Linked DNA regions of Homo sapiens: all the other regions are linked to region 4. The links come from fine-mapping of genetic effects on gene expression. A gene starts in region 4. Each other region holds a variant in brackets. All regions are shown on one strand. Distances are between the middles of the regions.

Region 1 (7,697 bases), 61 kb after region 4:
GCAGATTATGAAATGTTTTGTGAACACTAAAGCAGAAAACTCCCCAGAGTAGACAATCTTCTGTCTTCCCTTGTTACTTCTATCTTGCAGAACTTCTCTAAGCTGTAATTCTTGCTTCTGTGCTCTTTAGATGTCAGCAGTGGTAAGAATAGACTCTTTACATAAAGGGAGGAAGATCTGACTGCGAACAGGAGAAGCGGCATATGCCATGCTACCCAAAGGGCAGTTTCTCTCTCTCTCTCTCCTTCCTTCCTTCCTTCCTGCCTCCCTCCCTTCTCCTTTCTCGTTCTCTCTTTCTTTCTTCTTCTTTTATTTTTTTATTTTTTTTTATTTTTGAGATGGAGTCTCACTCTGTTGCCCAGGCTGGAGTGCAGTGGCACTGCACTCCTGCGCCTCCTGGGTTCAAGCACTTCTCTCACATCAGCCTTCTGAGTAGCTGGAATTACAGGCCTGCACCACCATGCCCGGCTAATTTTTCTGTTTTTAGTAGAGATGGGGTTTTGCCATTTTGGCCAGGCTGGTCTTGAACTTCTGACTTTAAGTTATCTGCCACCTTGGCCTCCCGAAGTGCTGGGATTCCTGGGATTACAGGCATGAGCCACTGCACCTGACTGAGGACTCCACTTTTTAAATCTCCTTTTTAAAAGAAAAAAAAAATTGAGCTCAACTGCATGAACTCCACTTTTTAAATCTCTGTGGAAGTAAGAGTAAGAGTACCTATGGGGAAACTCATGGCAGGAAAGGTTAAAACCAAAGGGGCTACTTCCCTTCATCTCCCCACCAGAAACTAAAAACTTCAACAACACTTGAATCAAGGGGCTTTGAAATTGTCTGATCCTCCATCAGTTCTTTGGATGAGAAATTGGTCTGGGCCAATTCCTTGGTAGAGTAGATCTACTGAGGTTATTTCAAATACAGCAACAATCCAGGACTAGCCCACGTTAGATAACTGTTGCTTTTATAAACTTATTTTGTGTGTGGTAAAATACACATATCATAGCATTTCCTATCTTAATAATTTTTAAGCATACAAGTCAGTGGCATTAATTACATTCATAACAAGTTCATTTATTCATTCATTCAACATATCTTAGTTGAGTGTATGCTATAGGGCATGCATACTGTCTGATCTTAAAAACAAAGATCCCTAGTTTCATGGAGCTTTCTTCATTCTAGCAGAGAGAGGCAGAAAACTAATAGCAAACATAATAAATAAATAGATTAGGTGGCATGTTAGTAGGTGCCAAAGGCTATGGTTAGGTCCTGGGGCACAGCGTGCCCAGTGTCTGACGGCTTCTGCATCTTTCAAATAGTCCAGAGACCCTTGCTTATCTCCTACCTCCAAAGTCCCACCTTCAAAGACTATTAGTGAACTTGGAGAGTTCACTGGTGTATTAGTAGTTCGTTTTCACGCTGCTGGTAAAGACATACCCAAAAACTGGGAACAAAAAGAGGTTTAATTGGACTTACAGTTCCACATGGCTGGGGAGGCCTCAGAATCGCAGTGGAAGGTGAAAGGCACTTCTTCCATCGCGGCAGCAAGAGAGAAATGAGCAAGATGCAAAAGCGGAAGCCCCTGATAAACCCATCAGATCTCGTGAGACTTATTCACTATCAAGAGAATAGCACGGGAAAGACCAGCCCCCATGATTCAATTACCTCCCCCTGGGTCCCTCCCACAACACGTGGGGATTCTGGGAGATACAATCGAGTTGAGATTTGAATGGGGACACAGCCAAGCCATATCAACTGGTTACCTGACTGAGTAATTAACAAAGAAAATGTGTTCCTTTGAACTGATCTATACGACAACTAAATATACAACAAATGCTGATGGCAGTTGGGGCTGTCAGTTAAAAAGTGTAAAGGTTCTTGCTACACATAGTGTGTTTTCCCCAGACAATAGTCTTCACTTTGAGAATAAGTGTCAAGACAGGTAATTTAAACAGAAAGCCATGCTTTTTTTCACCAATAATGTGATTTTTTAAATAAAAGAAAGAATTATATAGAAATATATACATTTTGAAAATTCTGTCACCTCAAAACCTAAAGTGGCCAAGGACAGAAGAGATGAGGAATGCAGTGATTTATGGTACTCTGCAATGACAATGGAAAACGAATTTTGAAATGCTTTCTTTTGTCAAGTGCAAGGATGCTATCAGATGTTTCCTATAATATATTTTGAGCTTCTGCTTAGGCTGTTTCAGGTAGCAAGGAACACTGTTAACAGAAGTTTATTATAAGCATATATGTGGAAGGAAATAGTAAGCACATGATTATGAAACTAGACCACACCTTGATCATGATCAAAATTAACGTTACCAATGCAGGACAGATGGACATCTGTGCCTCCAGCTGTGATACTTCAAAAAGGACACAAAATCACTAATGTAGTATTCCAACCAGAAATGCATAACCTGGGAGAATATCAGGTAATATCAAGTTGAGGGATGTTCAATAAAGTATCTGACTTGATTTCTTTAAAAATGGCAATGTTATAAAAGACATAACATTGAAAGGCTGAGCCAACGGTTCCAGATTAAAGGAGACTGAAGAGTAGCATAACCAACTCTTCACCCATTCACCTAGGACTGAGTAGTTTCCCAGGATGCAGGACTTTCAGTGCTAAAATGGAGAAGGTCTGGGAAAACAGGGTTATTCTGAATTGATGACTTGATCACCCTGCTGAGGAGACATAATCATTAAATGCAATATGTAAAACATGTGATCCTGGACTGGATCGTGGAATGGAGTGAAAAAAAAAACATGCTACAAGTACATTATTGGGATAATTCACAGAATTAGAACATCAACTTAAAAAAAGTACAGTAAAGTACACAAAACATAAAACTTACCATTTTAACTATTTGTAGATGTACAGCTCAGTAGCATTAAGTCCATTCACACTATTGTGCAACCATCATCACTATCCATCTCCAGAATGTTTTTATCTTTCCATACCTAAACTCTATACCTGTCAAATAATAACTCCCCATTTCCTCCTACTCCTAGCTCCTGGTCACCACCATTCTACTTTCTGTCTCTAGGACTTTGCCTATTCTAGGTATCTCATGTAGGTGAAATCATACAGTATTTGTCCTTTTGTATCCAGTTTATTTCACTTAGCGTAATGTTTTCAAGGTCTATTTATGTTATAGCTTGTGCCAGAATTTCATTCCTTTTTAAGGCTGAATCATTTTCCATTGTATGTATGTACCACATTTGTTTTTGTTTTTGTTTTTGTTTTGTTTTGTTTTGAGACAAAATCTCACTCTGTCATCCAGGCTGGAGTGCAGTGGCACGATCATGGCTCACTGCAAACTCCACCTCCCAGGTTCAAGTGATTCTCCTGCCTCAGCCTCTCAATCAGCTAGGATTACAGGTGCTCGCCATCACACCCGGCTAATTTTTGTATTTTTAGTAGAGATGGGGTTTCACCATGTTGGCCAGGCTGGTTTTGAACTCCTGACCTCAGGTGATCTGCCTGCCTCGGCCTCCCAAAGTGCTGGGATTACAGGCGTGAACCACTGCGCCTGGCCACATTTTGTTTATTCAGTCATCTGTTGATGAACATTTGGGTTGTTTCTACCTTTTCGCTGTTGTGAATAGTGCTGCTATGAACAATGGTGTAGAAATGTGGGGTTTAACATTGAACTATTATATCAATGTAAAATTGCCTGAATTGGAGCTGTGTACCACGACTGTGTAAGAAAATATCTAAGGAAATACATACTGAAATATTAAGAAAAAAAGTGATATATGCATCCTAGTCTCAAATGCTTCAGACAAAAATGAGAAAGAGAGAGAAAGAAATGTGGCAAAATGTTAAAAATTGCTGAATCTGGGTAAAGGGTATGAGTTCTTTGCAATATTCTTGCAACTTTTCTGTAAGTTAATTTTTTTGAGTACAAGAGAAAGGAAGCAAGGGAGAAATTTGATGTATGATATGCGGTCCTTGTGGAGAAAGAAGAATCTATGAAAAGCTGGTCCTCACAGAGCTTGCAATGTCATCAGGGTAATGGAAGATAACGCAGGATTCATCACAGCTTACTTGGGTATCTTGTCCCTATGAACAGAAGTTGGCAACTATACCTATTTCTAGTGCTCGCTCTTTCAGTTTCCAAACTACTCTTTGCTTCTGCCGCTACCAACTAATTTCTCCATCCTGTCCTCTCTTCCTCATCTTCAGCTTGCTCATAGCTTCTATTTTCTTAGGGCTTCTACTTCCTCTTCTCTGTGTGTGTGTTGGCTGCTGCTGCCATCTTCCTCCGGTCCAGGCAGCTGTTGTGGGGTCATGTGGTACACAGCGTGACAACCTTTGCATAGGAGGGCTGCAGCCATGTAACATAAGTGTCTTGCTTGGCCAGTCTAGTCCAACTAAAAGACTATGGTTGGAGCCCTAGATGTGGTGTAGGGAGTTGGTGGTGAGAAAAAGCAAAACACCAAATCTCCCCTGAGGCATTGTGA[C/T]CCATGTTTGATTTACCTTGGAAATATGAGGAAAAAAATAGAAACTGTGTATATGAAAGTTCAGTAGAATTGGAGGAGACAAGATTTCATTGTAGTTTTGGAGAACATTTTAAGGTTGAGTACTGGAAAAATTCGTCTCTCTCTCCCTCCCTCACTTCATTCCTTCCTTTTTCCCCTGATTTCCTTCCACAAAAATTCATTATGTGCAAGGCATTATAATAGTTGCCACGGGGAATCTAAACTGTATAAGATGTGGTCCCTGCTACAAGAAGCTTATAATCTAGGGTAGTGCATTTTAAACTACAGGCTGCAACCCATTAGTGATTAGTAGATTGTGAAATCAAATCGGTGCATCTGACCAGCATTTAAAAAAACTGAAATTCAATAGAAAGCTCTTAGAGTCCGTCACACTTGGTCATGGTAAATACTGTTGAATGAACATTTTTATAGGTGTGTGTATGTGTACACAGGATTGTGACATAAAATGTATTTCTGCTGTGGGTTATAGAAAAAATAGTCTCAAAGCCATTGATCTAGTAGAACTTAAGCCTATAGCTTCAGTGATCATCCCAGTGCTGATGTCTATCTCCAGCCTAGAACTTCTTCCTGCTCCACACACGGCTTTTCAACTCCCAGCTGGACATCTCAAACTAAACATATCCCATATTGCCCATATCATCTTCCTCCCTAAAATGTTTCTGTTCCAGACATTGAATGTTGGTTAACGACATGCACATCTATCTGGTCATTCAGGACAGAAGACTGAGAGGTACCTAAAGTGTCTTCTTCTGTGCCTTCTCCACTCATTCTTCACATTCAGTTAGCCAATCTGCCTCCTCCCCTCCATCCTTATTAGCACTCTTTGGTTTAGGACCTGTATAATTTCTCTCCTAGTTTCTTGCCATACCTTCTTAACTGGTCTCCTTTTCTTCAGTCTTGTTTCCTAACTCCTGCCCAACAAGTCTGTGTCCTACATTTATTCCCAAGTAATCTTTTAAAAATGCTAAAATGAGTCAGGTGCAATGGCTTACACCTACAATCCCAGCACTTTGGGAGGTTGAGGCAGGAGGATCACTTGAGCCCAGGAGTTTGAGGTCAGCCTGGGCAACATAGTGAGACCCTGTCTCTACAAATAATATTTTTTTAAAAAATTACCCAGGCATGGTGGTGGTATGTGCCTGTGGTCCCAGCTATGTGTAAGGCTAAGGCAAGAGGATCGCCTAAGCCCAGGAGGGCTGTGATTGTGGCACAGCACTCTAGCCTAGGCAACAGAGTAAGACTCTGTCTCAATTTTTAAAAAAAATGTTAACATGACATTTTTTTCTGGTGAAAAACCTTTGATGGTTCCCCACTGCTTTGAGAAAAAATGTCTAATCATGAGAGCCAACATCTTGCTTGGTCTACTTTTGCTACCTTCATCAGCCTCAGTTCCTCATCCTCTCTTAGCCTTACCCCTGATTCTAGTGGTACCAACTAGCTCAGGTGCTCTCATATTTCAGTGACTTTGACTCCCACCTTGAATGTGCTTGCTTCGTTTCTTCGCCTGCGTCTAAATCTTACCCCTCTTTCCCAGCACAGCTCTAATGTCACCTGGTCTTGGGACCCTTTCTGACTGCCCTCCAAGGTTCTCCTTGCATCCTAGGCACGCTGCTGTCCTAGCTAACAGCGCGGTCATTGTTGTTTGGGTTGTCTTCATTATGACCTAGCTGCTAGCAAGGACTCTGTTTTGTTCATCTTTATAAAATAAGCAACTAGCCCAGTACTTGACATCCTAGGCACTGACCAAACATTTGTTGAAAAAATGAATGAAGATGAAATCTCTCAACAGCCCACTCCTTGATTATAATGATAGTATCATAATAATGTTAAATAATTCTTGACAATACTCTTGTTTTCAAAAGTCTTTAGAAGTAGAGGGTGACTGGTTGGCTAGATGTGCTTTGTCTCTATCAGTCCTTTTTCCACCGTCCCCTTCTCTGTCTGGTTCCGATGAGACTAAGAGAACATTGCCATCTGCTTGTAGGAAACATCCAGGAATTCTCCCACCAACAGATTCCTGTTAAAAAAACATACACACAGCCAGAAAAGACAAGAAAAGAAGACAAGAATGCAATGTGTATTGTGTTTATTTTATCTTAAACCCACTTTGTTGTTCTTATTGTTATCTGTATTGTGTTCTAGGCCTTAGGGAGAGAGGTCAGATCCTTTTGTTGCTTACTTTGGATGTAAACGTGCCTGGAAGCAGTGGGCCTGGTCCAGAGTGACTTTGAAGGAATCTTTCAGTCCAGACCCCATAATGCAGGGTCCCAAAGTCACCATATGAATTCATTTGCCCCCACAGAACTATCTCAATTTCCTCTTCACTCTAGGCACTGGGGATATAGTGACAAAGGAAATGTGGCCCCTGTCCAGAGGAGAAAGGGATCATTTGTTTTTTTCCTCTGTATATTCTTTTGTTGTCCTGGACTTTTGTTTTCTCAGTGTTTTTTTCTTGAAACAAGTGAGAGTTAGATATTTCTAAGTAATACAGCATTTTTTTTTTTTTTACAAAGGGTTCCACCTCTATGTGACCAGGCAGAGCTATTCTCTGTGTGTGTGTGTGTGTGTGTGTGTGTGTGTGTGTGTGTGTGTGTGTGTGTTTGTGTGTGTGTGAGAGAGAGAGAGAGAGATAGACCCAGTCTCACTCTGTCACCCAGGCTGGAGTGCAGTGGCGTGATCTTGGCTCACTGCAACCTCCGTCTCCTGGGCTCAAGCAATTCTTGTGCCTCAGCCTCCCTAGTAGCTGGGACTACAGGCGTGCGCCACCATGCCTGGCTAATTTTTTGAATTTTTAGTAGAGACGGGTTTTCACCATGTTGGCCAGGCTGGTCTCGAACTCCTGACTTCAAGTGATCCACCTGGCTTAGCCTCCCAAAGTGCTGGGATTACAGGCGTGAGCCACTGCGCCAGCCTGACAGAGCTATTCTTATTGCAAAAGTTTGGAGTTCAGAAATGAGAGCCCCAAGGGTCAATATATTACTTATCTGAAACAAACAGATGATGGAGGGAAAATGTTCTCTGGAATTTGCTTTTTTCATATGTAACATGGGTGTGATGTTATTTCCTTCACATGTGAACACTCACTGAGCACCCAGCAGAGAGGTGAGTACCCAGGGATGTAACACCCGCTAGATATAAGTCTTCTTCCTAGTGCATCAGAAAACAGGAGGGACACTGAGGCCAGTGTGGAG
Region 2 (7,697 bases), 70 kb after region 4:
GTTTTTGGTTTTTGTTGTTGTTTTGTTTTTAGTGTACTAATACTCATTATTCTTCTGATTCCCCAAACCCCCTTGTTATTAATAGCTGATATCCGTTCCTCATTTGTTCTTTCATTCTTGCAACAAATATTTACTAAGAACCCACTATTGGTGCTATAGTTTGGATATTTGTCCCTGCCTAACTCTCATGTTGGATTGTAATCCCCAGTGCTGGAGGCGGGACCTGGTGGGAGGTGTTTGGGTCATGTGGGCAGATCCCTTATGGATTGGTGCTGTCTTCATGACAGTGAGTGAGTTCTTATGAGATCTGGTCATTTAAAAGTGTATGGCAACTGCCCCACTCTATCTATTGCACCTGGTCCCACCATGTGAGACACCTGCTCCCTCTTCACCTTCTGCCATGATTGTGAGCTTCCTGAGGGCTCCCTGGAAGCCAAGCCGATGCCAGAACCATACTTCCTGTAAAGGCTGCAGAACCAGAAGCCAATTAAACCTCTTTTTTTCTAAATTACCTAGCCTCATGTATTTCTTTATAGCAACACAAAAACAGCCTAATACAGCTAGTGACCATTCTGGAACTCAGGATGCCATGGTAAGTAAGACAGTCTTTGCCCTCTTGGTGATTTTATTCTAGTATGGCAGACAGATAATCAGGTAGTAAGTAAATAAGTAGTATAACGGACTGAGACAAATGTTGTGAGAAAAAATTAAAAGGCAGGGTAAGGGCTAGTGCGTGACCATAGGAATAAGAGCTTTTTCCATATGGTGATAGGGAAAGGCCTCTTTGAGGAGGAGACACTTGTATTTGAGGAGAGACTTAAATTATGACAAGAAATCAACCATAAGCTGGCCGAGCGCGGCGGCTCACACCTGTAATCCCCACACTTTGGGAGGCCAAGGCAGGCGGATAACGTGAAGTCAGGAGTTCGAGACCAGCCTGGCCGACATGGTGAAACCCCATCTCTCCTAAAAATACAAAAATTAACTGGGCATGGTGGCAGGCACCTGTAATCCCAGCTACTCGGGAGTCTGAGGCAGGAGAATGGCTTGAACCAGGGAGGCGGAGGTTGCAGTGAGCTGAGATCGTGCCCTTGCACTCCAGCCTGGGTGGCTGAGTGAGAATCTGTCTCAAAAAAAAAAAAAAAAAAAAAAAAAAAAGAAAGAAAGAAAGAAAAGAAAAGAAAAGAAAAGAAAAAGAACGAAAAGAAAAGAAATCAACCATAAGCTAACCCAAGAGAAGAAAGGGAAAGGGAACAGGAAGTGAAGTCCCTGAGGCAGGAATGTTCTAGAAAGATGAGGGGTGCTCTAGGAGACCAATAAGAAGGCTAACATGGGCAGAGTGTAGTAGGAGATGAAGATGGATGGGAGGCAGAGGTGAGAACCTGCAGGGCTTTGAGGGAGAGAAGAATCAAGTGCAACTCCTTAGGCTGGGTGCGGTGGCTCATGCCTGTAATCCCAGAACTTTGGGAGGCCAAGGCAGGTGGATCACTTGAGGCCAGGAATTTGAGACCAGCCTGGCCATCATGGCAAAACCCCATCTCTACTAAAAATACAAAAATTAGCCGGGCAAAGTGGCACATGACAGTAATCCAGCTACTTGGGAGGCTGAGGCAGGAGAATTGCTTGAACCCAGGAGGCAGAGGTTGCAGTGAGCCGAGATTGTGCCACTACACTCCAGCCTGGGCAACAGAGTGAGACACTGTCTCAAAAACAAAACAAAGAGCAACTTCTTAATGTTAAGTCTAAGTGCCTGGATAGATGATGTTACCACGTCCTCATAGGGAAAGCTTGGGGAAGGAAGTGAATGCAGATTTGTATGGGGTTATTGAATCTGGAAACAAGAATTTCTTTTTGGACATGTGAAGTTTGAGAACCTTTGAGACATCCAAGTGTAGCTGTTGAGTAGACAGTGGGATATGTAAGAGTTTGAAGCTCAAGGAGCCATCAGGCTAGAGATACAACCTGGGAATTCACTTAAGCTTAGGGATGAGAATGTAAATTGAGAAGAGGCCAGAACCCCGGAGCCCACAGGCATTTAGAGGTTAGGAAGGAGGAGATAGAAGGAAACTCCAAACATGTGGCCTTTGAGGTGTCCCACATATTTGGACACATCCATGGTGTTGTGTGGCATGCCAATAGTTTCACGTGCGCCGGACTTACCATGAAAACCAAGGCTGCAAACTTCCTGAGACCACTCATATTTCTCCATGAGAGCAGGGCTAAAGGTCCAAAATGTTTTATTGGTGTGTAGTCTTGGCACAGTCCCTGTTTACCATGTATTTCTTAGAGCAAGGAGTGTACACTGCCAGGCTATTGAGGGAAGTGTGGCTTCTTCCTTTCTCAAGGACTATATCTTTGAGTTAGTTAAGAATTCTCAGACTTACTTTACTGGCAGTGAACTGATGCACAGAGAGATTAACTGATTTATGCCCAGCCCAAACTGAGTCAACAGCCAGCCCGAGGCCACACTGCAGTGTTTATTAAATTATGGACTGAGGATTGCCAGCATCTCAGCCACCTGGAGTGTTGCTTAAGAAAAAAAAAAAAAAAAAATAGGCCGGGCGCAGTGGCTCATGCCTATAATCCCAGCACTTTGGGAGGCCAAGGCGGGCGGATCA[T/C]GAGGTCAGGAGATCCAGACCATCCTGGCTAAAATGGTGAAACCCCGTCTCTACTAAAAATACAAAAAAATTAGCCGGGCATGGTGGTGGACGCCTGTAGTCCCAGCTACTTGGGAGGCTGAGGCAGGAGAATGGCGTGAACCCAGGAGGCAGAGGTTGCAGTGAGCCGAGATCGTGCCACTGCACTCCAGGCTGGGCAACAGAGCGAGACTCCGTCTCAAAAAAAAAAAAAAAAAATGCTAACATATATGGGTTATCTATTAAGTGCTTTACAAATGGCAACTCTTAATCCTCAGAACAACTCCATGCAAGAGGCTTATCATCACCAATTTACAGAGGAGGAAATAGACATGAGAGAGTTCCACAGGTAGCAAAGGGGCAGATTAGTCTAGTTCCATGCTCCCAACCACAATGCCATACAGCTTGCTGAAACAGAATCTCTGGAAATGGGACACTGGAGTAGTCTGTATTTAGAAAAATTTCTGGGGGCATTTTTGTGTACTGTATATGAAATCTTGAGAACTGATGTTTCACTGGATCTCAAGTTTGTTCTTTGAAGCTCAGGAAAACCTTACTTGCTCTACTATTTTTTTTAACATCTCTAAGTATCCATGTTTAAGTAAATGTATTAGTTTCAGATTATTCTTGGTAGTATTTTGTTAAACACAGGTAACAACTTACTGCACAGTTGTCATTTCAAGAGGTAAAGCATATGATTGCACATTAAACCGGCTGGCATTGTCTAATATGTTGACAATAATTACCTAACAATTATTGACATTGTTGCATCCTACTGTCAAAAGGAATAATGTGTCTTTTTTTCCCTGTGTTCATGATTGGATACATTTGCCTACAGAGATCCATAAACAATAATGAAATAAATCAATCCTATGGCGAATGCAGTAGTATGCATGACTCCATGGTGGCAGTTTGCCTTGCTGGCTGAGAGGAGGTGGTACTCTGACACGTCTCAGCTCTGCACTCCTTAGCCGAGTAAAGATATGGCCTTTTGATGTATGGGATATCCCAGAGAGCTCAGACATTACTCTCTGCTGACCTTTGTGGATGGTCTCAAGAGCTTATGGGGTGAAAGAAATGAAGTCATAGGAGTATTTAAAAAGAAAGAAAGAAAGAAAATAAATAAGTCCAGTTCAGTTGAAAAATAGACACATGTTGAATATCCAAGGCCTTTAGATCACAAGAGATAACATTAAGCAAACTCCTTTCTGTTAACAAGAAATTGTGCTTTACTGTCACAGATCTCCACCCAGATTGCCCCTTGAATTTGCATTATTCACACAATGAGACTGGTTTCACCTGTTTGCAATTGTTTTAACTATTAGTCATCAGTTCAGAGGTTGCTTAAGCTTATTTCGCCTGCAGTTTATCTTATACACCTTTTATTTATTTATATATTTTTGAGACAGAGTCTCACTCTGTCGCCCAGGCTGGAGTGCTGTGGCACCATCTTGGGTCACTGTAACCTCCAGCTCCCAGGTTCAAGCAATTCTCCTGCCTCAGCCTCCCAAGTAGCTGGGATTATAGGTGTGTGCCACCATGCCTGGCTAATTTTTTTTTGTACTTTTTTAGTAGAGATGGGGTTTCACCACATTGGCTAGTCTGGTCTTGAGCTCCTGACCTCAGGTGATCCTCCCGCCTCAGCCTCCAAAAGTGCTGGGATAACAGGCATGAGCCACTGCACCCAGTCCTTATGCACATTTAAAAATTACACATTAGAAATCAACAAAGGTGACACGCCTGTTATATATTGTCAAAGGAGAAAAAATATCTAAAAACAATTTGGAAGAGAAGTGAGGCCATTACACCAGGGAGAACTAAAATCTTAGTCTTTTTTATGAAAAGAAAGAAAGATAAATAAATGGGGTGGAGGATGGGTTATCAGGTTTAGAAAAAAGAAAGAAAGAAAAATACAAGATGCCCAATTAAGTTTGAATTTCAGATAAACAACAAATAATTTCTTAGTTAAGTATGTCCCTTGCATGTCTGAGATATACTTATGGTGAAAAATTATTTACTATTTATCTGAAATTCAAATTTAAGTGAGTGTCCTGTATTCTCTCTGGCAACCCTGCTTAAGTAGTGCCTTTTTAATCTAAGTTTGAAAAAAATCCTTTTAGAAAACAGATGTCTTCAGGAAACTGGGTCATGGATTCAACAGCATAAATACTTGCTAATTATGTTGCACAGTGTCATGGGATTACATATTTATTAAATATAAATAAACTAGCAATAATAGTGACTGAAACTTACTTTGATTTGAAAACCCATCCATTTTATTTATCTTTTTTTTTTTTTTTTTTGAGACAGAGTTTTGCTCTGTCTCCCAGGCTGGGGTGCAGTGGCACGATCTCAGCTCACTGCAACCTCCACCTCCCAGACTCATGAGATTCTCCTGCCTCAGCCTCCGAGTAGCTGGGATTACAGGTGCCATCACCACACCTGGCTAATTTTTGTATTTTTAGTAGAGACGGGGTTTCACCATGTCGGCCAGGCTGGTCTTGAACTCCTGACCTCAGGTGATCCAACACTTGAGATAAACTGAGTGGGCTTCTGCTCCCTGCAACAAAAGGAGCCTGATTACTACAGATCTGCATCTTCAGGTAAATAAAATAACTCAGATTCTCAAGTTGGAATCTTTACCATCCTGATTTGAGAAGCAATAAAGAATCAAATCACCAGACAATATGTACTCGCAGTTATCAAATACTGCCTTTACAGAGCTATTAGTTGTCTTAGGGAAACAAGGCAAAAAAATCATTAAGTGGGTGAAATGTTTGCATTTCTCTTCACATCTGCAGCAAAGAGCTGACACTAGTTTAAAACCTACAGACTGTGGAACAAACTGCTTTCTGGTCTGAGTATTATGGGTTATTCAGCCATTAGCAACATTGCTTTTTCTTTTCTTTTTTTTTTAACTTTACAAGAAATTTAAATAAAACTTTCTTTACCCTGAGTGGATTTCACGTTTTGGTCAACCCTGGCCTTTTACTACCTACGTAGACCTCAAAGAGGGGCAATTAATTTCAAGTGTCTTAGGAGGAAATAAGTTCTCACAATTATGTTTTGAAAGTGTTTTTGAAATTATCCATGGTATATTAAGGGAGATTTATCTGCTGGCTGATGGAAATTTAAACCTAGCATTCAAGAGAGAGGTTAGGACTATAGGTATAGAGACTTGGAAGTCATTGGCATATAGGTGATAATTAAAGCTCCAGGTAATTAAAACAAGTTGGAAGGGGGATTGTGTACAGTGAAAAGACAAGAAGACAAAGGTTACTATCTAGGGCTTTTTCCCCAAATCCACCATCATCAGATTCACTTGTGGAACCTGTTGTTCTCAGGTCCTACCCTGGACCTATTGAACCTAGAAGATTGAGGCAAGGGTGACTCCCAGGAGTCTGCATTTTGAAAAAGCATCCTAGGTGATCCTTATGCAACCCCACAGAGCCAAGGCTTTATTTGCCTCAGTCAAAAAAAGAAACATCCTGGATGGTGGCTCCTGGATGGTGGCTGCTGTTGGTTAAAGCTACAACTGCACATCTATCAGTGGTTCCTGGCACACAGGACTCAAGAACTGCAACATTCTTGAGGCCAGTGGGACCTCCAAACATCAGAAATTAGTTAAAGATACGATACTTAAATGGGATTGGTCACAGCCTTGGTTCCTTGTCCCTGCACTGCATGCTTCCATTGCCCTACCGTGAACCACTTAGGGTATACGAGGAGCATTTGTGAATTGCCATAGTGGATTCTTCCGGGGATTCCTTGGTAGGGCTTTTTCCTTGACTGAGTCACAGCAGTGGGTTGAAGGTAGAGGATCCGAGGTGGTGGCCAACTCAGAGGCTATGTAAAGTGAAAGAACATGACTCAACAATGAGTGATACATAGTCACTAAGTGCCCTGTGCCCAGCTTGGCCTTTGTACCAAGGCCTCCTCTGTGCCCTCTGCCAGTAGGGTGAGGAAGCCATAATCATACAGGCCAGAACGCAAGCACTATGAGAGATTTGGGAGCACCAGCAGGCCATAGACTTCTGAACCCAAAGTTACCTTTCTGGAGGTTGGTGAAGGGGATTGCACTGACCATTGGCCATTGGGGCTGCCTGGAAGTTCCAGAATGTGGCCCCAGAAGCACTCCAGGGGGCTGGGGAGGTATGCCCAGAGGGTTTATTTGAAGAGGGCAAGCTGTGTGCCACCAGAAAGAATCACTCTTATGCCTAACAGCTGCAACTGGCCTGGCATAGACCAGGAGGCAATGAGTCGGGTCAAACCAGTTCTAATAGCGCTTGCCTCCAGTGGTGCTTGGCAGTCAATCCTATAAGATGCTTTGATTTTTTTAACTGGTGACTATTTTGTAAAGAACTATTTTTATAATATATGGTATTTTTGCTTAAGTAATTTCATCTTCAGCTCACGATGAATTTGAAGAAGTGTCTTTCAACAGAACTGGATGTTGCTGAGGAGTGACAGGTTGCTAACATGTAGGAGTGGGGTGGAGTTTCTTGGCAGGGTGCATGTTTCTGTAGGGGATTGATTATGGGTAGCTGTGAAGGTCCTAGAATTGCTATAAATGTATATGGGGTTATTTTGAAATAAAAATGCTTATAACTTGTCTGCATTGAACAACTGGGGTGGTTAAGTGCAAGTTTACATCACTGGGATAAAATGTATATGTTCTCTCCCTTTACCTTCCCAAGGGAGCAGATGTAAATCTTACCTGAATAGTAACTTGTACTTTCCTTTAGGAGGGAGGGGTAAGCAAGCCTTGGGCAGCTTTACTGTGAGCCTTGATAATAGCTATTTCATATATTGTGAGGGTCAGCTGCTTAAAATTGTTTTGCCTTCAGAGAAAAGCACCAAAGAGAGACAATAAAGCACAAAGCGGGTGTGTGTGTGCAAGCATGCTTACGAATGTGGCAGGCATAAATGTTTATGCTTATTTCTCCTTGTTATACATGCTCATTGTAAATATTTCCAAGATCATAGAAATATAAACCCATCTTCTACAGACAAGCAGGATTAACAGCTTAAATATTCTTGAAATTTTAGATACACAATCAC
Region 3 (7,697 bases), 39 kb after region 4:
AAACAAAGTACCTAGAGTAAATTACTCCTGCAAGGTCACATGGCTAGTGATAGACATGTGGACTCTGGAATGGGCTTAGGATATTATTTTAGACCCAAGAAATCCAGAATCGACCATCACAGAGCCTGTGAAAGAAGATATATGGTGAGCCAGCCGCTGTCCCAGATTGTTTGCAGAACGGCACTCAGATCCCCAACACCTCTGCCAAATTAACAGCTGGTAACAGTTGGAAGCAACTGTCAGTTCTAGAATTTTGAGCTTATGAAAATCTTGTAATTAATGGTATTAGGGAACCGTTGCTCCTCCTGGTCCCATCCATCATTCATTGGAAGGTGACTGGGACCACTAGCTGTCGCATACAAGCTTAATCCTAGCTAGAACAGAAACTGGATTTGGAAGATGATAAAACCAATATCAACCAAGGGCAGATTGGCATTTAGAAGAAAAGTCTGCAGGAGAGCTTAACCTTGTCTTTTGAAAGAAGGGATAGGAGAAGAAGAAAAAGAAAGTATGGCAAAATAAGCTAAAAAGGCCCAACTACATATCTCCTGGGGGAAAAAAGTGACAATAAAAGGAAATGATAATGGAATATCTCTGGAAGGATAAGTAAGGAAGGAACTGATAATTGCCTCCCAGGAGGGAAACCAAGTGTTAGGAGTTTGGGCATGGAAAAGACTTCACTGAATTACCTTTCATACATTTAGGCTTTTGAATCATACATTTTTAATCTTTTTTTTAAAATGTAACTTTAAAAAAGAAAATAACAAGGGAATATTTCTTAAGATTATAGTGGTTTTAAAACAATCCTTGTGAAGGAAGGATAGGATCAGTTCAATAAAATCCAGACTTAACCTGGCTCTTTTGCAGAGATTCAGAGACAGCATGGCCAAGGGTGTGCTGCCTTAGGCCTGATGCAGGAACAGCTGGCTTCGACTGGAGCATTACATTCTGATTGAAGGCCAATGCACGTTCCTCATTCTTCTCTAATGTTTCTTGCTGTAATACCTCTCTGAAACTAAATATTTCCTTTTTTGGAGAAGGATTAAATATAGGCAGAATCCTATTTTAACAACTATCACCACACTGTCCAGTTCAATATAACAAAGTTCTTTTCCTAGCCAACAGCCCATACTAGCATGGTTTTGTTTATATTTTTTGGTATGTATAGAGGCAACAGTAAAGGATTTTATACACACACACACACACACACACACACACGTATATATCTTCTTGAGAAATTATATATATACATACATTTTATGCATGTATGTGTATATATACAGATGAAAATATTTCAGAGACATAGCATTATCAGGACTCAGAACTAACTATAGAGGTGGTGTCAAATAGCATATAAAGTAGTTAATGTGTTATGTAGGATGTAGCAGCAGAGATGAGTGTGTAGCACAGAAAAACACAGCATTCAAGAAGCAGTATAGCATAGCAATTTAAGGCATGGACTCTGGAGTCAGGCTACATATGAATCCCAGCTTTACCACTTGATTAGCAATGCAACTTTTAGCAAGTCATTTTCCCCTTTTGTGACTCAGTGTTAGCATCTGTAAAATGGGGCTAATGATAGCATAAGTCTCAAAGTCTTATTACAAAGATTAAGTTAGTTAATAGATGTCTGGAATAGTGATTGGTCACATGGTAAGAACTACCATAAATAAGTATTAGCTATTGTCATTCTACAAAGAGAACTTTGATAATGTGGACCATGCCACATTCCCTTTGGCCCCCAGATAGATTTTTTTTTTTTTTTTTGAGACAGAGTCTTGCTCTGTCACCCAGGCTGGAGTACAGTGGCGCCGTTTGGGCTCACTGCAACCTCCACCTCCTGGGTTCGAGAAATTCTCCTGCCTCAGCCTCCCAAGTAGCTAGGATTACAGGCACCCGCCATCATGTCCAGCTAATTTTTGTATTTTTAGTAGAGACAGGGTTTCACCATCTTGGTCAGGCTGGTCTCGAACTCCCGACCTCAGGTGATCCATCTACCTCGGCCTCCCAAAGTGCTGGGATTACAGGCATGGGCCACCGTGCCCAGCCCCCTAGATAAATATTATCACCCATGTGTGAGGATGTATTTTATCAGAGTCTCATCATGACCTGGGTGAAATAGTCCTCAAGACAATCCACTCCCTTTCTCTTAATTCCATGCTCACCCAGCAGTTGTCTTTATTACTAATCCAGCTTTCCAATTTTCTACCCCTAGGAAAGGGAAGTGTGGTGTTCTGAATGAAATGCAGGTCATCTATCTCCTGCAAAAGGTCATCTCCATTGAAAAATGAAAGCATTGGCATTCTGATTTACATGTCCATCTCATGTGAGTGTTCCACTGAGTCTGCACCTCTGGGAATACACTTATAAAGTCTAGTTTATGGACCTGCCCAAACTGAGGTCCAGAATCTGGATCTTGGTAAAGTCACCAAGGAAATGTCAACCCAGAGGCCTCTTGGGGGTGCATGAGCTGTGTTCTTCCCCAGGAAAGACCTCCGGTGCTCTTACTTCATCGTTGATGGCAACCACTCAACATGGTTGCAAAACATGGTGGTTACTTTGCTCAGAAAAAAAATTTTTTTTTTAAACAGTACTTGTGTATAGTAATTATTTTGAAAACCTGCAATTTGTTAAATACACATGTCAAAATTAAACTAAGCAAGGAGTTGGTAATTCTGTTTCTGAAAGCTAAAGCAGAAACAGAAGGGACTTTGAACTTTTTATAGAAAAGGATATTCTGAAATATCAAAAGTATATTCTGAAATATCCTTTCTATTTTCTCCTGCAAGCTCCTGGGTGTTTAGGGTTTGTGTTCCCAAATGATTCGTAAAATAGGTAGTTTTCTGGTGATAGTTGTTGGAATTGGGGTGATCAAAATTCCAGTACAGTTTCAAGTTCAGACATAATAGCAATACATTGGGATCCAGGCTCATTAGAAAGCCTCTGTGGCCTGCCATGGTCAATCTCATCTACAATAGTAGGTTGTGTTCTGGGAACCTGGTAAGCAGGTCACTGACAAACTGAAGTCTGTCCAAAGGCAGGCAACTCTAGGGAAGAACCATCTCACACATATCAGTCAGGATATTTTCAGTTGCAAGTAACAAAGCACTAGACTCAAACTGGGCTAAGCAAAATAGTATGTTGACTTGTAGTTGAAATCACATAATTCTAAAGTAGAATTGCCTTCAAACAAGGCCTTTCTTCTCATACAAGAAGTACTCAGATTTTTCTCTCCATCTCTCCACCTGCTTTTTGAATATTGGTGCATTTTTCAGTAGGCTCTTCCCTTCATGGTCCAAGATAAACGTCAACAATTCCCAAGGTTCCATGCATCCTCATCTTCACCCCACACTTTAAAACTATCATTTCTAGTTCACCCCTGAGATTTGTTCTGATTGGACTAGCGTTGATCAAGTGTCCACCCCTTGAACCCATCTCTGTGGCCAGGAAAAAGGAACGATAGCCTAGGTCATATACTCCACCCTTGGAGCAGGGGCAGAGTCAGCTTCTCCAGAACCAGATGGAGCCCCGCTCAGAAATCAGGGGCTATTGGGTCAAGGGAAGAAAAAAATAAATGCTGCAAGAGGTAAC[T/C]AATAAAGGTATGTGCTTGATCATACGAGGAACATTTGAAGGAATAGTGTCCTTAGCTTAAAGATGAATAGACATGAAAAGGACAAGGTAGTTTAAGATTTGAAAGTGTTATTTGGAGGAAGCGTCAGATTTACTGTGTGTAATTCTAGTACTGATGGTTAAGGGGATGCAGATTTTGATTAAATTTAAGTAATTCACCCACAAGGGAAAAAATACATTCATAACAAAAGGGTATATTATGAAACTTGAAAATCTTTCTCCTCCTTTCCCTTTCCTTTCCTGCCTCTCACCTTCCTCCATCTCTACTCTCCAGAGATAGCCTGTGTGAACTGTTTAACGAAAAGAAAACCTTTCTTAAGATTAGAGCTACCCATAAGGACTTGGCTATGTCTTCAAGTATTGATTGCCCCATCATCTCAAGTAGGATATTTTAAAGATTTCTACTTTAGGTGGAATATGGACCAAGTCACTATAAGTAACTATAAGATACCAGTACTCCATTTTTGAGGCAGCATGACTTAAAGACGGGCTGAGACAATTTAAGGGGGAATTCCTGCTTATAAAAAGGTGAGAAAAATTTGAGACATTCAAGAGTAAATATTGTTTGTTGATGGAACAAAAGAACTGTGAAATCCCCTTTCCCTAAAACCAAAGCTATGATGGCAGATGGAATGAGTAACTAGGTAAGGAGGATGAATAACTAGGTAGGAGGATGAATGAAATTGAGATGAGTAGATGTGAAGTTCAGTCCTGTCAAAAAGCACTTGAGGCCAGGTGTGGTGTCTCATACCTGTAATCCCAGCACTTTGGGAGGCTAAGGTGGGCAGATCACTTGAGCTCAGGAGTTTGAGACTAGCCTAGGCAACATGCCAAAACCCTGTCTCTACTAAAAAAAAAAAAAAAAAAAAAAAAAAATTAGCCAGATGTAGTGGCATGTGCCTGTAGTCCCAGCTACTCAGGAGGTTGAGACAGGAGAATCGCTTAAGTGTGGGAGACGGAGGCTGCAGTGAGCCAAGATCGTGCCACTGCACTCCAGCCTGGGTGACAGGAGTGAAACCCTATCTCAAATAAAAAAATAAAAAGTGAAAAATTAAAAAGAAAAAAGCACCTTGAACCAGATCACAGATGCAGGAATGAGCAGAAAACTTAGGAGAGGCAACAACACTCACACAGATGGCCAAGGCCCCTCTGGCCTGTGAAAATACTGGTTTGACTGAATGTTATTTGGGATCTTTCCTTTACACATGAATAATTAAATGTATCCCATGTATGTTCTGAGCTAAAGCAGAAAGAACAGAAAAACACTTAACCTTTTCAAAATTATTTCACAGCTGAACTTGTTCCAATTGACTCCTGATATGTTAATGAAATAGTAGTGGTTGTCATTTAATGTTTCTAGTGTGATCAGAATCAGAAGCAAACGAAATATTCTGAATTTTCTCTTTCATAGACTGTAAGAGTAATAGAAATGAGATTATGTCTTGTCCAGGCCTAGTAAATAAGTAAATCTTAAATAAATGAATAAATACCATTCATTAGGGTTTGCCTCTGTTTCACATTCAATACATCTACCTAGCATTCAACACATCTGATTTAATGAAAACTTCAGAAAACCCTGTGAAGTTATTATTACCTCTATTTCACAGATGAGAAATGAGGCCTGGAAAAGTCAAATAACTTGTTCAAAATCACACAGCTAATAAGTGGTGGAACCAGGCCGGGCGCGGTGGCTCATGCCTGTAATCCCAGCAGTTTGGGAGGCTGGGGCTGGTGGATCACCTGAGGTCAGGAGTTCAAGACCAGCCTGGCCAACATGGTGAACCCCGTCTCTGCTAAAAATACAAAAATTAGCCAGGTGTGGCAGTGGGTGCCTGCAATTCCAGCTACTCAGGAGGCTGAGGCAGGAGAATCGCTTGAACCTGGGAGGCGGGTGTTGCAGTGAGCTGAGATCACACCATTGCAATACAGCCTGGATGACAGAGTGAAGCTGCGTTTCAAAAAAAAAAAAAAGTACTGGAACCAGAATTGGGACCCAATTCTATCTGACTAAATCCATATCCTTTCCACATCCCCCTGTCTTTATGTATGTGAATGTATAGACAGAGCATGTTCATGACTCTACATGGTCAAATATCATGCATGTGTACAGAGCAATCTCAAAATAGAAGTTTTTAGTTCTTTCTAAAAACAAATTTATCCAGGGGAGAAGATCATCATAAAGACATAAACATGCCTACTGGATTTTCAGAGGCTCCTATAAGTTCTTTAATACTTAGATATCTGGACTGCAAAATAGTCTTATTTTTTTCCTTTTGTTGTGGATTTATTTTTCAAGGAGTTGTATAGCAATGACACATTGGATTGTTATTTCTGAGGCTTGTTTTGAAATATGTATTGAAACCTATGAACTCTGCAGTTCCTGTGGTCACACATTTTTTCTTAATGACTGTTAAATGATGTGTTTTTTTTCAAAAGCTCTAAGAGAGCATGACCTTTACCCAACAGGTTTCAATTTTCAAAAAATATTTCCTTACTTTTACACTAAGCTAGATATTTATTTTCATTTCCCTAGTTTCCCATTCACTTTAGCAGATCTTCATGTGCTCAGCCTCTATGCCAAGGCCTGTGAGGGCTTCAAAAGGAGGACACATGGGTTGGTTAAGTTTTCCAGTATCAGCTCTTCAGAGAGCCTGGCCTTCACCACCCAAGCAGACACCCTCCCCCATGCCCACCCTCATCATTCTCTGAATAAGGTACGCTTTTCATCTCTTCATTTCTTCTCACAATCTGTAATTGTTTCATTTATCTACTTGTTTATTAACTGTTGTCCCCACATAAATTTTGCTTTTTTTTTTTTTTTTTTTTTTTTTTTGATGCAGAGTCTCGCTCTGTTGCCCAGGCTGGTGTGCAGTGGTGTGATCTTGGCTTCCTGCAACCTCTGTCTCCCAGGTTCAAGCAGTTCTCCAGCCTCGGCCTCCTGAGTAGCTGGAATTACAGGCATGTGCAACCACATTCAGCTAATTTTTTGTATTTTTAGTAGAGATAGGGTTTCGCCATGTTGGCCAGGCTAGTTTCAAGCTCCCAGCCTCAGGTGATCTACTCTCCTCAGCCTCCCAAAGTGTTGGGATTACAGGCATGAGCCATCACGCCTGGCCGACATGACACAAGTTCTGAGAGGGCAGAGATCTCATCTGTCTTCCTCACTGCTGTGTCCCCCAGCAACTTAGCATAGTACTTGGCACAGAAAGCTCTGAATAAAAATTGCTGACTGACTGAATGAGTAAATGGATGTCTCCAGAACCTAGCAATGCCTACCACATGGTAGGCGCTCCATGAACCTTTTCTCATAATGAATGAAGTCATCAAGAAAGGAGACAGGATTTGACCTGTGATGTGAGGATGTGAGGTAATGATCGTGAAGTTCAGTCCACTCAAAAAGCACCTGAGGCCAGGTGCGGTGGCCTATAGAGGGGCATTCAACCTTTTGTCTGTACAGAACAGGCATTTTTTTTTTTCTGGCAAATGCTCCTTAAAACCATGTGGGGGCTACTAATCATGAAGTACTTCAGAGGTATGGCACATGCTCAAGTTGAGTTAATCAGTGTTCTTCTTTCTTCTGGGCACATTGACTGGTCTCTAGATAGGCACAAAGTCCCGCCCAGGTCATTCAGTGTCTTTTTACCACTCATTTTCAGACTCAAGCGGAAGAAAGATATTCCTTTTTTCTCTAGTCAGAGAGCTGCAAGGATGTGTGCCCAAGGCAGCTATGTCTTCAAAGCTGGTCTGAGAGGATGATGCCAACAGGCAGAAATTCAAAGGCAGGGGATGGTAAGCAAGCCCCAATGGCCAAGGGCCAGAGGACTTTTTCAAGGCTTAACTGTTCAGCTTCAAATCTGTGAGTGAATCTTGTGTCTTATCATAAATAACCTCCCTAAAAAACAAAAACTTAAGTGATTAGGTTGAATCTGAGAATCCCAAGTAATACAAATATGGGTAGGTGAACAGGAGTAGGGATGAGCTTTTGGATAAAAGCACGAAGGTTAGATTAAATATGATTTTTAGGAAAGTTCATAATGAAACGCTTAAATGATAGGTGTTTATGACCT
Region 4 (7,697 bases):
CACTGCACTTCAGCCTGGGCGATAGAGCAATACTCTGTCTCAAAAAATAAATAAATAAATAATAAAACTGAAAAACAAACAGTAAAAGTATATAATTTTTAAATATGTAAATAAATAGAAGAAACACCTATGGTTGCTCTGAAAGCAGGACACAGGAGGGAAAGTCATAAAGACATGAGGCAGAGGACCGGAGTTTTAATTACAGGTTATCTGAGTACCTGGCTTGGGGCCAGAAAAATTCAGATTTCAAATTTTGTTGAATTTCAGATTTTGTCAGATTTTGGAAGACTTGCATTGCCAGTTGGGCATCCCAAATCCAAATATTTAAAACTCAAACTGCTCCAATGAACATTTTCTTTGAGAGTCATGCTGGCACTCAAAAAGTTTAATATTTTGGAGCATTTTGGATTTCAGATTTTCAGATTTGGGATGCTCAACCTGTATAACCCTTGTAGTACAATTTTCTTTTTAACTGCACAGCTGTATAAATCAAATATTAATCTTTTTTTAAAAAAGGAACAAAACCAGGGGTCCTTTGATCACTTAATAACAATACCCCACAAATATCTGAGCATCACTACGTGTCAGATACTTTTCTAGGTGCTAGGAAGAGAACAGTGTACAAAATAAGCCCTTGTCCTCATGAAGCTTACAATCAGAGAGGGAGGCAGATAATAAACTAATGTACGTTTTAATGTCAGATAAACCAATGATGTAAAAATAAATAAATAAAGCAAGGCAAAGGCACAGAGTATGATGGGGGATGCTATTTAATAAGGTTTTCAGAAAACACTTCTGCAAGAACAACAAAAGGAAATCAAACTAAAGAAAATCTGTTCTGAAAAAAAAGGTCATGTAAGTGAAATAACAGAAAACTATCAATTAAATTCAAGATGAGAGATTCAAGTCTTTCACACTCCAAAGCAATGTATTATTCAAAAGCCAGTACCAAAAGTTTCTCTGTAATGAAATAAACGGCCAAGCTTCCTCAAGCTAAGTCATATGAACACTGCTATATCCATATAACTGTATGTATATATAGATCCTTCCCATATCCCTAACTAGCTACTTAGTAAAGTGACTATGTAAATTTATATTCAAACTTTTTTCTTTCCATAGAATAGGTAAATGTAACACATTTTAAATTCCAGTGTTTTATTTCTATTATGTAGTTAAAAGTTTTCCTAAATCAAAAGCTCAAGACATTAAACCAAAAAAGATTCCAGATTAATTCCACGTTACTAAAATTTATCACAATCTTTATTCTCTCACTAAAAAGGATTCAATAGGAAATTTAAGACACATTTAAAGAAACAATTTACAGGGTAATGCAATACATTCATTTTCCTCTCCAAGGAACTTCACTCAGGCTGGGGTAGTTTCAAGCTATTTGAATTATCTTTCATTGAAAATTAACTTAAAAAAAAGTATTCATATTAAAGTGACAATTTTATTCCAAATACAGTCGTTACACAATAAATATCTCATATTCAAAAAATGGATACACTTCAATATCTTATTCTCAAACTGTGTATCATTAAAATTAAAAGTAAACCCAAACTATGTGCCTATTTTACATAGCAAAAAAAAAAAAAAAAGCATACTTTCGGAGAAAATGGGTTTAAAGTTTAACTCACAAAAGAAAACAAATTTGATTCAATAAATTTCAATTAATAGTTTGGTTTATGGTTTAAAAGTTATTTAAAAATTTCTGAAAAAGCAGATTATCAAGGAATTGGTTCACTCACAGTCAGCCAGAAATAAAAAGGTGATATTTTAAAATTTTAGACCAAAAAAGAAATTTAGATTCCCTTATAAATAAATGCCGAGAGAATATTTTCAGCAAACATTCATTTAACTACATAAACCAAAAGAATAAGGCTGTCTAACCACATGTAAACTACGCATCATCTGACTTCAGGTAGAATGTTTATCTTTGGTATACTTGGTAACCAGAAACCCAAAGTATATAAACATAGGCATATTCTAAAAACAATTGTCTTAATGTTTTTGTTCGCTAGGCAATAATTCCCACAATTCTCAGAAAGAAAAAAACAATATCCTTAACCAAAAAGTTATCAGAGGAGTTTCTACTTCTTAAACTTTTAAACAAACATATTTGCCCACTTATCATTTAAGCCCCATCAGGGCTTAAATGATAAGCCCTGTTGTGTCTCCCCTGTTGTGTCCCCAACCTCTAGGGAACTAACTGGCACCAAGTAGGTACCCAATACACATGTGCAGAATGAACTGAGTCTCTGGAAAAAGCTTAAGTGTTTTAAGTTGCAACAGGACAATTTCACCTATATATCCATCATTCACTACACTGAACTCTAATGACGTAATAAAAAGACTCGTACCAGGTATTTAAAAACACACACAAAAATATATTACTCACATATGTATCTGACTCACAAAGCCAGTTTTTCAGTTATGTTTTCTCTCAGGAAAATTTGTTGTATTCTTTCTAGTATTACTAATAAATATTAGAAAAGCACGTTGTGTTCTGCCAATGCAAGCATTATCTTCAAACTTACGTTGCAATCTGAAAAAATTTAGGCAAACTAAACAGTATTTCCAGAGTCCTGCCCCAAAGTATTACTAAAAGTCAAATTCCTTAATTCAATGAAAAGTGAAATAACGCACAGTGGCGCATGCCTGTAGTCCCAGCTTCTTGGGAGCCTGACACGGGAGGATCGCTTGAGCTCAGGAGTCTGAGACCAGCCTGAGCCAAATAAGGAGAACCTATCTTAAAAGGAAAAAAAAAAAAGTGGAATATAATGGGAAAAACGCACATCTTACCGTTCAAAAATTATGCTGAATTTTAAAAAGAAAAAATGAACTACGCTTAAAATAAATACACTGAAATTGTTTATCCCAAATGGCATTAATGCCCTTACATTTTGATATTTAGATCTGCCTCAAAAGACCTTTGAAGCTACATGATAAACTTCATGCCTACAAAGCTTGAGTTAGAGGTTATCTTTGTTAAAATAATACTGTTTGGATGCTCAGTTTTGGAAGTTTCCTCATAATTCTAAATTAAGATATTTAGCCGTAAGAGTAATACACTTATGTGTATGATTCTATAGCACTTGTTCTATAGCACTTGTACAAGCATAATGATCTTGAGTGGAACAGGCTTTATAATGAGCAAGCTATGATCTGTCTAACAGCGATACTCTGCAAACACGGGCTGAAAAGTTTCCTAAAATTCTGATGGTCATCTTCAAAGAAACTTGAACAGGAATCGATCTAATGGTGGACACAGAAAAATACCCAAGTCAACTCATGAACACTGGTAAGAAAAGGCTCTCTATAGCAACTAAAGTGTTGGGGAAAAAAAATCCAGGGAGCATAAACGATAAAGCTCAATTAACTGCTGCTTGTGTGATTCCACTTTATGGTCTTAAATACACAGTAGGCATTAGATATTTCTTTTGGGGTTTTTTTTTTTTAACAGAAATTTAGTATTTCAATTGCCCCTCCTCCACAGCTAACATCAGTGCCCTTTCTTCCTCCTCCCTTACCCCTCCCAACTCAAACAAATTAACATTTGTACTAGGTACCTCCTATCAGCTCGCAGCTTCTTCCCAAACACGCCCACGTACACTGAAACTGGCTTGCGTCTACACAACACACAGCTACAGGAAAAGAGCTTCGAGGGGGGAGCTGGGGCGGGGGGTTAATAATTCGCTCCGCACAGGTTTACGGCTATTTTCCAGAAACTAGTTCCTCGCTCGTGGCTCGCGTTTCTTCCAAATCACCTCAAAAGCACGGTGTTTATGAGCCTACCTAATCCGATACTGCAATGGAATTCCGGATATTTGCAGACAGATCTCCCGGCTTTGCAAGTGTTTGATGAGATACGTTCGGAATCTCCTTTTTTTTCTAGAGCCCGGTTCCAGGCCGTAGAGCAAGCCGACCTGGGGCTGCGGCCCCTGCCCCACACCCGGCCCGCGCGCCCGGCCCGAGGCCAGCACAGGACGCAGCCCCTCCGGGGCCGGGGCTGGCGGGGGCCGCTCGGGCTGCGGGCCGCTCTGCAACAGGTCACCCTGACCGCGACTCCGCGGGTTCGCGGGCGGCCAACTCTGCGGCCAGGCTTCTGGGCGCAGCCGCCAGGGCCAGGGGAGGGGGTGTGGCCCGGCTTCTGCTGGTCCTGGCTCCGAGGTCCGGGATCGGGCTCACCTGAAGGAAGACTGAGGCGCCGCTGGGCGCCAGAACAGAGCGGGCGGAGGCTGGGGGCTTCCGCCACCCAAGAGGGAGAGCGAGGCGGGTTCAAGGGGTCGCAGCGCCCCCGGCTTCAGGACGGCGCCCCCGAGCGGGGACCCCACGGCCGCTCCGACTCTGAGAACCCGCGGCCGAGGGAGGCGCGCCGCCCAGCGCCCTTCTCCCTCAGCCTCAGCCCCAGCTCCGCAGCCCCCTCCCTGCGCGCAGGGCGAGCAGCCCCGGGGCCCGCGGCCGGGAGAGCCACACTCCGCAGCGCCGCCGCCGCCATTCCCCGCGCCGCCCGGGGGGCGCCGCGTACCCACCCTCCCTCCCTCCCTCCCCCGCACCGCCCCGCGGCCTGAGCCCACCGACCTGTGCAGCCGCGGCCGTCGCCTCAGAGGACGGAAAGACGATGCCGGCCTCACGCTTCACCGCCACGGCCGCCGCCGCCTAGAGTAGCACTCGTCGACCCGAACAGTCACCGTCTCTCATTCAGCGCCCGCAGCAGCCGCCGCCGCCGCCGCCGCTGCCGCTCGGGGGAGGAGAGTGAGCTGGAACCACCCCGTCCGCGCCAGGGGTGGGGGACGAGAGCGGACCTGGCGGGGGCGCGCGCCAAGCGGGCGGGGCGGAGCCGCGCGCGCGCGCGCACCAACGGAGCGCGCTCGCGGGGGCTCTGAGAGCTGCAGCCGTCAGGGTCTTAACCTCGCGCTTCCCGCCCGCAGCTTTTCGGCCCCGCGGAGCCCAACTGCCGCCGGTGATCGGTGCCCGCAGCGCGCGCAGCCATCCGCAACCCCACCGCCCGGCGCCTGCTGAAAGGAGGGGCTCCCACCGGCCAAACAACGGGGGGGGGAAGGGGTAGGAGGATGGACAGGTGGGGCGTCCGCCACCGCCTGGCCACCCGCTCCCGGAACGCGGCCCTCTGTGAAATCCGCCGTGATGTCTGTGGCCTTCAGCGCCGGGCTCTTCACCTTTAAGGCCAGAGAACAAAGTCTGGAAGCACTTGGCCCCAAGATCAAATATCCAGCCCACGCCAGCGGTGTTTTTAGAAGTCACTGAGGACAAATGAGGGGGCTCCCAATGTGGAGAGTCACCCCACTGTCTTAGATAAGGTCATAAATTATGGTGATCAACATCCTCACACATTAAGATTCGGGAAGTGTTAGAAGTAGGCCTTTGTAAGATGTTACGCAGGGTACTACCCTTGACTTAAGGAGCAAATGACAGAAATTGGGCGGAAAGGTGTTGTTTCAGAGTCTACTAAATGGGTGGCCTACTTAAAGCTAGCACCATTTGATGCAGTGTGACTGTTAACGGAAGGTTTTAAGTGAGCCGCCTTTGTATCTGCTGTCATTAGACCATTTGGAAATGGATAATTATTTGATGATCTGCAGTTCTTTCTCTAGGCAATGTGCAGTAGAATGTGGAAAGAATACTATGTACCAGCATTAAGTGTAAAACATGAAAGGACCAATAATTCACTATTCCCATTTGGTTTCTTTCTTCCCTTTAATAACCGCTAAACAGAACTGATTAATCTTGAACGTTGAAGATTGCTAATTATTTCCTCCTTTGATTGCCTTCTGTCATAGCCCTTTTACTCTAGTTGGGGACGCTAGAATGCCCTTCAACCTCCTTCTCTCAAATAGGGTTACTTTAAAGCACCCCAACGCAAAGTTAAGTCAAAAAGAAAAACAGCGAGGATAGGCAACAAAGTTCGTAGTGTTTCATTTTTATTCCATTTTACTTTCAAAGAAAGTCTTGAATCATGACGAAATCACTAGAAGAAGTAGAGCAATCAAAAGAAGAAAAAAAGCGTTCCCCCCCACCCAATATTTCAAATGACAAGAGTCCAAAAAAGAAAAGAAAAAGGAAGATGATTGGTAAAAAGGAGGGAAGTGCATTATGTATACAGAAAGTTTTCGCATAGATGTTAGTTGCTTCAAGTCCCAAATAAACAACAACTAAATGAATTAGCACTTGGAGGAAAAACCCCTTCCAGTTATTGAGTTGGGTAAATGTTTAGTCTTCTTAAAGTGTTACTAAGAGATTAAGGAAAATGTCGTTGGCTATATGCCAACAATAATACATGCAACATACATACCATTATCACACATAATTAACTGCTCTTAAGAAATATGAAAACTGAGGAACGGAACTCTTATGTTGTTAAATGTCATACAATTACTTGAAACTTGAATTAGGGTTTCATAGATATAAATGAGGCAGGGTCCCTACATCTGCCAATAATTTTCACAGCTTATTGTAAAAGCAGTGAAGTTTTCACTTGGACTTTGAAAAGAAAAAAACATATGACTCATGAGCAAGGCCATGGATACACTAAATTCTTATGCCTACTGAATTTGAGTTTGAATAATTACCCCAAATCTGTTTCTCACATTGATAACTTATAAAACAATACTTTTATTAACCTTAAGAGTTGTGTTAAGTTCAAATTTGTGAACTTGGTAAGATTAAGAATTTGTATATAGGCCGGGCGTGGTGGCTCACACTTGTAATCCCAACACTTTGGGAGGCTGAGGCAGGCAGATCACCTGAGGTCAGGAGTGCAAGACCAGCCTGACCAACATGGTGAAGCTGGTCGCTACTAAAAATACAAAAAAATTAGCCGGGCGTGGTTGTGGGCACCTGTAATTCCAGCTACTCAGGAGGCTGAGGCTGGGGAATCACTTGAACCCAGGAGGCAGTGGTTGCAGTGAGCCAAGATCGCACCACTGCACTCCAGCCTGGGCGACAGAGGGAGATACTATCTCAAAAGAAAAAAAGAATTTGTATATAAAAATAGAGAAAAAAGTTTGTCCTCAATATCTTTTATAAAATAAGTGTCCCTTCCCATTCCTTGATAAATGAAAGCAGTGGCTTTTTATACCAAATTTTCTTTACCAGAGCACTTTTATCACAATTAAATTCTGTATGTTGCTTTATGGATTCCAATTGCTTTTGCCAAAATACAAGAAATATGCAAAGTCTTAGTATAACAAAAAGTACTAATGTATAAAATAGAAATGCCATTATATGAAATAGAAATCGATAAGAATTCAATATGCTTAAAAGTCATTTCAGAGGAATCACCATTATGTAATAGTTTTATTACTATCCATCCAAATTATTTCCAAGGGGCAAGCCAAGGAACTAATTTAGATATAGAACAAACAGTTCAAAGAGACCACCACTGCAGTAAACCAATCAACAAGCAACACAATTCATTACAGCTGTCAAAACAAAATCAAACTGGCATGGTAAGAAAGCTTATTTTTTCAGTAATACTTAATTCTATTACAACCAAAAGAATTTCAGTAATAACATATACCTTTGTTATTTCTCTAACCTTTCATCTCTTTTTTCAAATGTATATAGTGGCTGGACATTTTGAAGAAATTTGTTGGTTGTGTTTACGATGTCACAATTTAAAATAAAGGCAAAGTTAGCATTCCCAAAATTCACCTTGAGGGAAAGGACGCATAAGGGAA

Direction of the effects. Alleles are on the strand shown, and positions count from the first base shown. SD is a standard deviation of normalised expression in the study named. Not every link is listed here.
As copies of C replace T in region 1, the expression in fibroblasts of the gene that starts at base 4,757 in region 4 goes down (small effect, 0.28 SD a copy in GTEx).
As copies of C replace T in region 2, the expression in pancreas of the gene that starts at base 4,757 in region 4 goes up (small effect, 0.34 SD a copy in GTEx).

Evidence for each region. PIP is the estimated chance that this variant, and not a neighbour inherited with it, causes the effect. A credible set is the group of variants that fine-mapping cannot tell apart.
Region 1: its variant is the best candidate, but not a certain one, in a credible set for the expression of RALGPS2 in fibroblasts (GTEx, PIP 0.83).
Region 2: its variant is the best candidate, but not a certain one, in a credible set for the expression of RALGPS2 in pancreas (GTEx, PIP 0.84).
Region 3: its variant is the best candidate, but not a certain one, in a credible set for the expression of RALGPS2 in esophagus muscle (GTEx, PIP 0.59).

The regions. Positions count from the first base shown.
Region 1 is chr1:178,661,009-178,668,705 of GRCh38, reverse strand. No RefSeq gene overlaps it. Among named protein-coding and RNA genes, the nearest start is that of MIR4424, 13 kb to the left of the region's middle. RefSeq lists an enhancer at 4,127-4,336. The variant C/T (reference allele first, on the strand shown) is at 4,468.
Region 2 is chr1:178,652,127-178,659,823 of GRCh38, reverse strand. No RefSeq gene overlaps it. Among named protein-coding and RNA genes, the nearest start is that of MIR4424, 22 kb to the left of the region's middle. RefSeq lists an enhancer at 6,065-7,264. The variant T/C (reference allele first, on the strand shown) is at 2,619.
Region 3 is chr1:178,683,212-178,690,908 of GRCh38, reverse strand. No RefSeq gene overlaps it. Among named protein-coding and RNA genes, the nearest start is that of MIR4424, 9.3 kb to the right of the region's middle. RefSeq lists an enhancer at 5,739-6,938. The variant T/C (reference allele first, on the strand shown) is at 3,592.
Region 4 is chr1:178,722,304-178,730,000 of GRCh38, reverse strand. RALGPS2 (Ral GEF with PH domain and SH3 binding motif 2) reads right to left here and starts at 4,757. Exons shown (of 20, transcript NM_152663.5): 1 at 4,582-4,757. It overlaps RALGPS2-AS1 (RALGPS2 antisense RNA 1), which reads left to right and starts at 3,717. Exons shown (of 1, transcript NR_187252.1): 1 at 3,717-6,992. RefSeq lists silencers at 3,948-4,177, 4,378-4,497, 4,758-4,927, 4,829-4,983 and an enhancer at 3,818-4,407.